Regions from separate parts of the Homo sapiens genome. Here region 1 is linked to region 2. The links come from fine-mapping of genetic effects on gene expression. A gene starts in region 2. The other region holds a variant in brackets. All regions are shown on one strand. Distances are from middle to middle.

Region 1 (5,512 bases), 29 kb before region 2:
ATTCTCCCGCCTCAGCCTCCCGAGTAGCTGGGACTACAGGCGCCCGCCACCACACCTGGCTAATTTTTTTGTATTTTTAGTAGAGACAGGGTTTCACTGTGTTAGCCAGGATGGTCTCGATCTCCTGACCTCGTGATCTCCCTGCCTCGGCCTCCCAAAGTGCTGGGTTACAGGCATGAGCCACCGCACCTGGCCCACATTTTGACTTTTATGATTACCTTCTTTATATGTGTAAAAACAGAAGGCTCTGTTTCTCTCGGTCCTGCGAAGTTCGGCTCCTGACACCAAGTTCTTCCTGCAGCACACACAAGATGCCCCATAGTGGCTGGTGATAGTGAGACTGACGCTTAGCAGCAGCCTTGCAGGTGCCTGGCTGACTTTTTTGTATTTTTAGTAGAGACGGGGTTTCACTGTGTTGGTCAGACTGAGGCTGAAGGTGTCCATCCGGTCTGTTTGTCTTTGCATTTATCACTGACAGTCAGTTAGAATCCCAGGGTTCAGAGGTATTTGAAATAATTCTTTTCGCATGACTGTTTCCAGTTTGCATCTACAGTTAGATTTTGTTCCTGCTTGTGTACGGCTTGGGGGTTTGCTCTTCCTGCCTCTCAAACCTTAGTTTTTTGTTTTGTTTTTTTTTGAGACAGGGTCTTCATCCTTGGCCCAGGCTGGAGTGCACTGGTGTGATCATAGCTCCCTGCAGCCTTGACCTCCTGGGCTCAAGTGATCCTCCTGCCCCAGCCTCCCGAGTAGCTGGGATCACAGGCATGCACCATCATGCCCAGCTAATTTTTTATTTTAATTTTTTGTAGAGATGGGGTCTCCCTGTGTCCCAGGCTGGGCTGGAACTTCTGGCAGTCTGCCCGCCTTGGCCTCCCATAATGCTGGGTTTACAGGCGTGAGCCTGTGCGCCTGGCAGCGTAGTGGGTTTTTTTTTTCTTTTGAGGCAGAGTCTCTCTCTATCGCCCAGGCTGGAGTGCAGTGGCGCGATCTCGACTCACTTGCAGCTTCCACCTCCCAGGTTCAAGTGATTCTCCTGCCTCAGCCTCCCGAGTAGCTGGGATTACAGATGTGCGCCACCACACCTGGCTAGTTTTTGTATTTTTTTAGTAGAGACACGGTTTTACCCTGTTAGCCAGGCTGGCCTCGGGTGATCCACCTGCCTCAGCCTCCCAAAGTGCTGGGATTACAGGCATGAGCCACTGCACCGCGCCGAGAATGTTTTTTAAAGAAGCATTATTTGTAGGAGGTTGGGCGTGGTGGCTCACTTGAGGCCAGGAGTTCCAGACAAGCCTGGCCAGCAGGGTGAAACCCGCTCTCTACTAAAAATCCAAAAATTAGCCAGGTGTGGTGGTGTGCGCCTGTAATCACAGCTACTCGCAAGGCTGAGGCAGGAGAACCGCTTGAACCAGGGAGGTGGAGGTTGCAGTGAGCCGGGAGACTCTGTCTCAAAAAAAAAAAAAAAAAAAAAAAGTTATTTGTAGAATAGGCTTCAACTTGGAAGGTGTTTCCTAGTGTTGCTTGTAGGCAGGTGGACAGGACCCGGAGCCCAGTGTGTGTGTGTTCCGTGTCATTGTTCCTTCTCTGTCACCTTGAGTGGTGTCTGCTCTTCTGTTTCCTCTCTCCTGTGTGGCAGTAAGCAGTGTCTGTGTTTCAGGTGGCAGAATCGTGTCCTCGAAACCCTTTGCACCTCTGAACTTCAGAATAAACAGTAGAAACTTGAGTGGTAAGAAACTCTCATGTTGTTAATGATGAACACGGGTAATTTTAACCATCTGACACGCAGTATTCCTAGGTCCCTCTTCCTTGACCCTGTGGACACTGGGGCTGGATCCTTCTGTGGGGTGGGGCTGTCCTGGGCAGTGCAGGGTGCTGAGCAGCGTCCCTGGTGTCCACCCACTCCATGCCAGGAGCACCCCTGGTCGCGACAACCACACACGTCCCCATAGAGCACTGTGTGCCATGGGGGTAGAATCACTCCTCGGGGAGACCCCGGCTTCGAGGGGAGGCGTGAAGGATTTACAGGACTTTTGTGGACAGAGACAGGCCCACGGTGGGAAGGAGCCGGCCCCTCCCATGCCCCCTGCCTGCCTTACTGTGCTGCGTGCTCTGTCAGCTCCCAGCCTTGCGGGGCAGCACGGCCTCCTCTGAGGGGCTTCCCTGAGGAGCGCCCACCCGGGAGGTGCCTGTGTTGCTGGATGCTGGCCGTTCTTGCAGCCGTGATCTAAGTCGCTTCCAGATCTTCTCCCCCTCCTTTTCCATTCCACTCAGCTGGGTTTGTGGCTGTTTTTCTGAGGTTGGAGGGGCCCAGGCCAGGTGGTGTTGAATGGTGCACCTCCCTGGGCCGGCCTCTGTGGGCCACTGTGGCCTGACGCAGTGTGGGAGAAGAGGGAAGACGCGCAGCTCAGGCTTCTGTCCCCACGCCTGCCCTGGGGTGGGTGAGGTCTGCATGGAGGGGCTGTGGGCAGGCGCAGGCCC[C/T]GGCCTCACCTGTGGCTCCTGCAGACATCGGCACCATCATGCGCGTGGTGGAGCTCTCGCCCCTGAAGGGCTCGGTGTCGTGGACGGGGAAGCCAGTCTCCTACTACCTGCACACTATCGACCGCACCATAGTGAGTATCTCGCTGCGCCTCAGCCGCAGGGCCGTCCTGGTCTTCCACCCCGCCCACGTCACACTGCTCTCTCCTTTCTCATGTGGCCTCTGAGACCCTCCCCTCAGAGCCCTCAACGCCCCCCGGCCCCTGAGCTCAGGCCCAGCTCCTCAAGGCCCCTCAGTACTGCTTGCACCGCAGGACCCACCAGGGTCCTCCCAGGCACTGGGCGTGTCCTGGGTGAGGGCTGAGTGCTGTCTCCCCTAGTCTACGCTCAGCTCCTGGGGTGGGGCGGGGCCATCAGAGTGATGTGTGACCATAAGGGTCCCGGCCGCCATATCCAGAGGCCCCTGTGGATAGGAGTCCCACGTCCCTGTTCCCAGCTTCCTCCATGTGAGAGGGTCCTGAGCGGGGAGACACCAGGGTCCATGGGTGGGGTCTGGGATGCTTCTTCCCTCCCTGTGTTCCCCAGGGTCCTCTGACACAGCCCTGGGCCAGTGTGCGGCCTGCCTGCCTCCCACGGTGCTTCCCCCCCGGGCACGAGTATCCCGAGCCTCCTGGCATGTGGGCAGCGCCAGCCCTCCAGGGCTGGGAGGCTTCCCCTGGTCTCTTTCCCGTCCTTTGGTTGGGCACTCTGTTCCTGTTGTTGGGGTAGCGGTGGTTTTCCTTACGGTGGTGCTGGTGTGTCTGCACCCTCACTGTCCAGTGCTCGGAGCCTCCACTAGAGCCTGCCTGGGGAGCGCTGGTGCCGTCTGGGGACCGACAGCCCCAGGCAGATGCACCCCGCCCTCCCACTGCTCCCCCGAGGGCCCTGGGACGAGAGGCATGGTGAGCTGAGGCTGAGGCTCTGGGGGCTTGGCCTACCGTGCGGCCCCCACCTCCACGCAGTGCTGCTGCTTCAGCTGCCCTGGCACTGACGCCCTCGGCGCAGCCTCTCGCCTTCTCCTCTGAGGCGGGCGCGGTTCTTCTGTGCAGAAAGCCCTCCCTCTTCCAGAAGCAGAGACACATCCCAGGGCCCTGTGTCTGTTCTGAAGGCTTAAACCAGCCCCGCCCACCCGTCGCGTGCTGGTGAATTGAGGGTGACGCCTGGCCACAGCTGGGTTAGTCACATCCGCGTTTGCCACTGGGGGGCTCTAGCTGCATGCCTGCTGTCCCCAGATACCAGAACAGCCTCCCCAGCCACTGTCCAGGTTGCTGTTGTTACCTGGGTGTCCAGACAAATCCGAACAGAGATTGGGACTCCCTTCTAATCAGGGTTCTCTTTCTTCTTTTTAGCTTGAAAACTATTTTTCTAGTCTGAAAAACCCAAAACTCAGGGTAAGTTTGTGTGTTTTTTCTCTTGGGTTAATAACACGCATGCACTGATGTGGGGAAATGCAAAGCCGTGCGCAGCCGGGTTCAGGAGCCACGACTGGAGCACAGCCCTGCCGCCCCTCGGGGCCCGGCCCTGTGCCCTTTCCCGCCTCCTTCCTGCTCCTCCCCACTGTCACTCCTGGTCCTCTCCCTACCCTTTCCTCCCTGTCCTCCCCCTCTTCCTCTCCTCTCCCAGCCCTTTTCTCTCACCATTCAATCTCTCTCTCTCTCCCCCACCCTCCCTCTCCGTTTCTCTCTCTCTCCCACCCTCTCTCTGTCTCTTTGCCTGTCTTCATGCTTTGCCTTGTCTTTGATGGTTTGGCCTGGGACATCCTTCCCCTTGTTAATACTTATTTTTGGGGAGGTGGCTTGGCTTAGTTTTGGTGGTGGGGTGAGTTGCACTGAAGGGCTGGGTGGGTGAAAAGCTTGTGCGTCACTGCTGGCTGCCCCCTCTTGAGGCCTGGGGGGCCACACATGTGCGCTTGTCCCACCCTCGGTGCAGAGTGCAGCTCCTGGGCCCCCGCGCCCTGCACGCGCTGCACCGTCGGAGGCAGGGCTGTCCCCTCCTCTCCCACCTTAAAGCAGCGGTGGGAAAGCCTGGCTTGGGGAGCCACAGTGGCCGCCCTGCCCGCTGGCGCTTCTGCAGCCTCAGACCTGCCTGCTTATTTGCCACCAAAGCTGAGAGGATGTTTGTCCGGGCGTCCTTTCCTTTTGGAGGGGGTCAGACAAGACCAGCATGCGGAGAACCCCGTACAGGAAGGGCTCTGTCACTGCCTGGATTTGTAGCCAGGGCTGGGCTCCAACCCGGCCTCAGAGCCTGGTACCCCTCGGGGGCCCTCTGTCCTTCCCACCATGCTTAGGGGGATGTGGGTCTTCCCTGGAGAGCAGGGAACGGCCCGAGGTGGCCGGCGCACCCTGTGTTCCCCTTCCCGTGGGTCGCGCCCTCCACTAACTCACATCAGAGAACTTGTGCATGGCGTCCCATGTGTGGGCCTCGGTGCCTTTCGAAGAGAGGAGAGAGGGCAGGGGAGGCTGTGGGCTGTGGCTTCTAGGTCCTGCTGCCTGAGGGGCTTCTCGTCTCCTGTCTTGGATGTGGTTCTTTTTCTCTGTGGCTCACAGTCTGGCTTCTTACTGACAGGCATCTGTGATTGTGGGAGTGGCTGTGAATGCCGTTATCCGTGCCCACGGGTCACGTCCTGGCCTGCGGGGCCCCAAGCAGCCCACTGCTGTCTCTGGGCCTCAGTTTCCTGATTTGTGCCACAGAGGACTTGCAGTGGACAGAGTTGGGCCCGTGGCCCCCTTGAGTCTGAGCTCCGCGTGCCTCTCGGTGCAGGAGGGCCGTGGGCAGCGCTGGGGCTTCCTGTGGCTCAACCTGCTCTCCTTCCAGGAGGAACAGGAGGCAGCCCGGCGCCGCCAGCAGCGCGAGAGCAAGAGCAACGCGGCCACGCCCACTAAGGGCCCAGAGGGCAAGGTGGCCGGCCCCGCCGACGCCCCCATGGTAAGGCCCCAGCCTGGCTCCTGCTGCTGGAGGGCACCCGCCCCCTGCCCGGGAGACCCCATGGGTGGGAGGCTCT
Region 2 (5,000 bases):
AGCCCTGCACACACCTTGCCCGTCACCTTCCGGATTTCGTTCCTGTAGAAGATGAGGCTTCTCCGCATGAACTCGTAGCTGGGGAAAAGGGTGGCACGGGGTCAAATGCCCGCTCTGCATGGCTGCTGTGCCCACCCCAGCAGTGCCCACCACCGCCTGGCCCCACCTGGCCCGACGCAGAGCCTCCATCCACTCCTGACACTGCTCCTCGCTGCTGCACTCAAAGTGATACTTCCTCTCAGGGTCCTCAATGAAGCCTGGGGATGGAACACCTGTGGTCGGTCCTACCCACAGCCACAAGCAGCTTCCTCTTGCCATTGCCCATAAACTGTCCCTTCTCTGGCCCCCACAAAGATGTGTTCATGTCCTGACCCCCCAGAACCCATGAGTATGGCCCTGTATATAAACAGGGTCTTTGCATATAAACTAGTCAAAATGAGGTTGTCGCCAGGTGCGGTGGCTCATGCCTATAATCCCAGCGCTTTGAGAGGCCAAGGTGGGAGGATTGCTTGAGCTCAGGAGTTCGAGACCAGCCTGGGTGACATGGCAAAATCCCCATCTCTACAAAAACAAAAATTAGCCAGGTGTGGTGGTGGGGCCTTGTAGGCCCAGCCACTCCGGAGTCAGAAGTGGGAGGACTGCTTGAGCCAAGGGGGTTGAGGCTGCAGTGAGCTGTGATCACGCCACTGCACTCCAGCCTCGGAAACAAAAGATCCTGTCTCAAAAATAAAGAGGGCCGGGTACGGTGGCTCAAGACCGTAATCCCAGCACTTTGGGAGGCCGAGGTGGGAGGATCACCTGAGGTCAGGAGTTCGAGAGCAGCCTGGCCAATATGGCGAAACCCCGTCTCTACTAAAAATACAAAAATTAGCTGGGCATGGTGGCGCGTGCCTGTAGTACCAGCTACTCGGGAGGCTGAGGCAGGAGAATCACTTGAACCCGAGAGGGGGAAGTTACAGGGAGCCGAGATTGCACCACTGCACTCCAGCCTGGGCGACATACCAAGACCCTGTCTCAAAAAATAAGCAAATAAAATAATAAAGTGAAGTAAAAAGGGGTTGTCAGGGTGGGCCCTAAATTCTGCTTGGCGTCTGTGTAGAAGGGGAAATGTGGGCACAGACGTGATGCAAGGAGGACAAGGTGACGCTTCCACAAGCCAAGGAACCTGGAGGATACTGGCCACCACTAGGAACTGGGAGATTCCCCTCGGCCTCAGAAGGATTCGGCCCCACCCACACCTTCATCTAGGATTTCTGGCCTCCAGAACTGTAGAGAATGTTTCTGATATTTAAGCCACCTGGCCTGTGGAATTTTGACAGCCACTCTGGGCAAACTAGCAGGGACTCCATCTTTCCCCGCAGAAGGGAATCTCTTAAGACCCAGGAGAACACCCCCCTCTCACTCCTCCTACCCCCACCTGGGATTTCCAGCCCGGGGCCATATAACAATGCTAGACCCATGCTACTCTTGGCAGCTGGGGAAACGCTTTGGGTGGGGCTGGCCCACCTGCCCTGTAAGTACAGCCTGGGCCCACAGGGAACAAAGAGCAGAGTCTGGGAGGGACCCAAGCTTAAGTGGACTCGGCAGGTGGGAAGGGTGGTGCCCGCCAGGAGAACTTGACCTTGAGCTGCCCGTGGACAATGCACTCTTGTGTTTGAGGAGGGTGGCGCCAGGCTGGGGACACAGAGGAGACCTTGGGCGCCCGGGGAGGGGAAAGTGCGGCGCTGCGGGTGCCCCGGGCTGCGGGAAGCGCCGCTGGCTTCCCTAGCCCCACTCACTGATGGAGAAGGTGCCGGGCTCTTCCCGGACGACTCTGCAGCGCTCCAGCAGCAGGGCTCCGACGGGCTGGAGGAGACACGGGCGCCGGGACGGGGCAGTGAGCACCCGGCCTCCGAGGGGCCCAGCCTGGGACCCGCCCGCGCGCCCGGGACGCCCCTACCTCGGCCTCGTCTGTCCGAAAGTAGAAGAGGAAATTCACCACCAGCTTCACCAGCCGCCGCTTCAGCACTGCGGGCACAGCGCGCACTCAGGGGCGCAGGCAGCCCCCGCCCGGACCCCGGCCTCCCGTCCCCGGCGCCCCGACCCGGACTCCGGCCTCCGGCACCCCCGCCCAGACCCCGGCCCCGGCCTCCCGCCCCTGGCACTGTCTCGGTCTCCCGGGTCCCGCTCACCGCTGCCCTTCTTGGGGCCCCTCATGCCCAGCTCGGCCGCCATCTCGGCCGGCTGCCGGGACAGAGCCTGCAGCTCCTTCTCGTTGTACCGCATGGCTCCGCGGGGAACGGGAACCCGGGCCGCGCCCTCCCGGCCGCCGTCCCCGCTCAGGCTGGGGCCGGCGCCAAAAATGTCTCAGGGCGCAGACACGGAAGCACCCCCAGGGCTAGTGCGCCTGCGCACCTTGGGCCAGCCATGCCGCCCGCCTCCGCTGCGTGGCGCTGGCGACCCGTGGCTGCTGGCGTGGGCGGGGTACCGGTTGGTAGGAGAGACGGACCGTTGTTACATAACCATTAAACTGAAATAAACCGGACCAAGGTGGAACAGAATCAAGGCACCCCAGCGATGGCTGGCACCCCTTTCTAGAGCGGCCAGGCGCAGGCGGAGGGAGCGATAACGTCGCCCGGAGAGTGTCAGCCGCTCCCTCGCGAAAGTTGGCCCCGTGCGGCCGCAGCGGACCGAGGGTTCGTTGAGAGCGTTGTGCGCACGCGCAGTTTGCCTTCCAGGCCGCGCTTTCAGCCTCTCCCCCTCCAGCCTTTTCCTTCGCGCCTCGGGACCCTCTGACTCACGCCGCTGGGCGGGCCAGGCATGCGCACACCAGAGGGCCCGTCTCATTTGCCCCGGAAGTGCTTTCTTTGCCCGCCGTTCGCCAAACGAAGTCGTGGAGGTGGCGAAACGAGGAGGAGATAACGCGGCCTTGGGCTCTGGTGAGGAGTAGAGGCGGTTGAGGGCGGCGGCCGACGCGGACCGGGGGTTCCCTGGGGGACAGCGGACGTAGGAGAGAGGCGCTTGCGACAGGCCGCGGGCCGAGGGTGGGGCGGCGGCGTCGCTCCCCTCCCTCCTCCCGTGAGCGTCCGGCCTTGTGCATCCTGAGGCCCCGCGCTGGGCGGGCCTGGAGGGTCGGGCCCGCCAGGAACTCTATTTCCAAACTCCTGTTGGGAGGCCGCGCGCGGGGCCTCACGCCTGTAATCTCACTGCTCAGGGAGGCCTTGGCGGGAGGATCGCTTGAGGCCAGGAGTTCGAGACCAGCCTGGACAACACACCGAGACCCCCATCTCTACAAAAAATTTTAAAAAATTAGCCAGGAGTGGTGGTTGTACCTGTAGGCCCAGCTACTCGAGAGGATCGCTTGAGCTCGGAATGTCGAGGCTGCAGTGAGCCATGATCCCACCACTGCACTCCAGCCTGGGCAACATAGCGAGACCCCATCACTGCAAAAAAAAAAAAAAAAAAAATTAGCCGGGCGTGGTTGGTGACGCGCGCCTGTAGTCCCAGCTACTCTGGAGGCTGAAGCGGGAAGATCGCTTGAGTCCAGGAGGTCGAGGCTGCAGTGAGTTGTGATTGTGCCGTTGCACTCCAGCCTGGACAACAGAGCAAGACCCTGTTTGACAAAATAAAAAAGAAACAACCAAGATTCGTTGGGGTCGAATCGGGATCGCGGCTGAAATGGTTTCGGCCGCCTTCCTTGTAGCCGAGAACGCTTCTGTATGCTCATCTATACCTGTTAGTTGACTGGGGCTCTGTGATGTAATTCCTGTGAGCCTCAGTTCCCTTAAAATGGGAGTGACGGCTTCAACATCATGCCAAAGGCGACCAGAACACGTTAGCTGGCCCCATTTTGCAGGTGCACCCCGCTGTGACCGTTGTTCTTGTGTATCCTTGGACGACACCAAACAGCCAGGCGGAGCTCTGGAAAATAGGTTGTTGGCTAGGTTAAGGAGAGAACGGTGTTGCCACGAAAAACTAATTCCTTCTCAATGGTCTAGTCCCAGGTCCCAGAGGCCACTTTTCCTCAATTCTTAAGCTCATTTCCCCTGGTCGTCATCGGTTTTTTGTTTGTTTTGAGACAGGGTCTTGCTCTGTCACCCAGGCTGGAGTGAGTGCAGTGGTGCAATCACAGCTTACTCCAGCCTCAAACTCCCATGCTCAAGCCATCCTCCTGCCTCAACCTCTCGAGTAGCTGGGATCACAGGTGCTCACCACCATGTCCGGCGAATTTTTGTATTTTTTGTAGAGACGAGGTTTCGCCATGTTGCCCAGGCTGGTCTCGAACTCCTGACCAGGTGATCCACCTGCCACGGCCTCCCAAAGTGGTAGGATTACAGGCATGAGCCACTGCACCCGGCTAATTTTTGTATTTTTTGTAGAGATGGGGTTTTACCAGGTTGGCCAGGCTGTCCCCTGATCTTTACCTTAGTAAGTAACAGATTTCTTCATGGATTTATCAATTTGTAGACATCATCTGCTGATTTCTTGTCACGGCTGTTGAGATCTTCTCCCTCCCATCCACCCACTGCACCTTCACCTTCCATATCCTGAATGAGTTTATGTCATGAGCATAGTTGGTCATTGGTTGTGTTTTCTAAATAAGATGCAAAATATTGTTGGCTGCTAAAACAAGTAATATGTTCAGCTAGGCTTTTCTTGTACCATTCTATCTTCCCTTAAAGCTAATTAACTTTGTTTTTACCATGAGCCTGATTTTCTTTTACCTGCTGTTTGTTTTTTCCCCACAAAGCTCCCACCTCTCACACACCTATCAGTTGTATTTTGCATAGGTTTAAATAAATTGATCTCCCCTCACCACTTCCCTCCAAGACCCCCTTATCCTCCTCCTCCAAATGGGACTGGTTGTGCTCTGACCTGGAAGTGGAGCTGTTGTCCCAAACCTTCCTGTCCTTGCTCCCCTGTGCTGACCTCTGTTTCCAGTGTGGTCATCTCTTTCCCTTCATGCTGTCCGAGCAAAACTTCTGGGAGCTTTTGAAGAAACAGATGATTTTTTTCGGGGG

The links. PIP is the estimated chance that this variant, and not a neighbour inherited with it, causes the effect.
Region 1: its variant is the best candidate, but not a certain one, in a credible set for the expression of PLEKHJ1 in blood mononuclear cells (TOPMed, PIP 0.70).

What each region holds. Positions count from the first base shown.
Region 1 is chr19:2,205,075-2,210,586 of GRCh38, forward strand. It overlaps DOT1L (DOT1 like histone lysine methyltransferase), which reads left to right. Exons shown (of 28, transcript NM_032482.3): 10 at 1,655-1,723; 11 at 2,500-2,606; 12 at 3,861-3,902; 13 at 5,326-5,436. Among named protein-coding and RNA genes, the nearest start is that of DOT1L-AS1, 7.7 kb to the right of the region's middle. The variant C/T (reference allele first, on the strand shown) is at 2,476.
Region 2 is chr19:2,233,984-2,238,983 of GRCh38, forward strand. PLEKHJ1 (pleckstrin homology domain containing J1) reads right to left here and starts at 2,346. Exons shown (of 6, transcript NM_018049.3): 1 at 2,172-2,346; 2 at 1,940-2,007; 3 at 1,779-1,845; 4 at 167-257; 5 at 15-78. The coding sequence starts at 2,265. It overlaps SF3A2 (splicing factor 3a subunit 2), which reads left to right and starts at 2,841. Exons shown (of 9, transcript NM_007165.5): 1 at 2,841-2,918. MIR1227 (microRNA 1227) reads right to left here and starts at 166; the gene lies at 79-166. It overlaps MIR6789 (microRNA 6789), which reads right to left and starts at 1,943; the gene lies at 1,846-1,943. RefSeq lists enhancers at 571-1,150, 1,153-1,761, 2,370-2,978, 2,557-2,606 and silencers at 1,787-2,416, 3,027-3,126.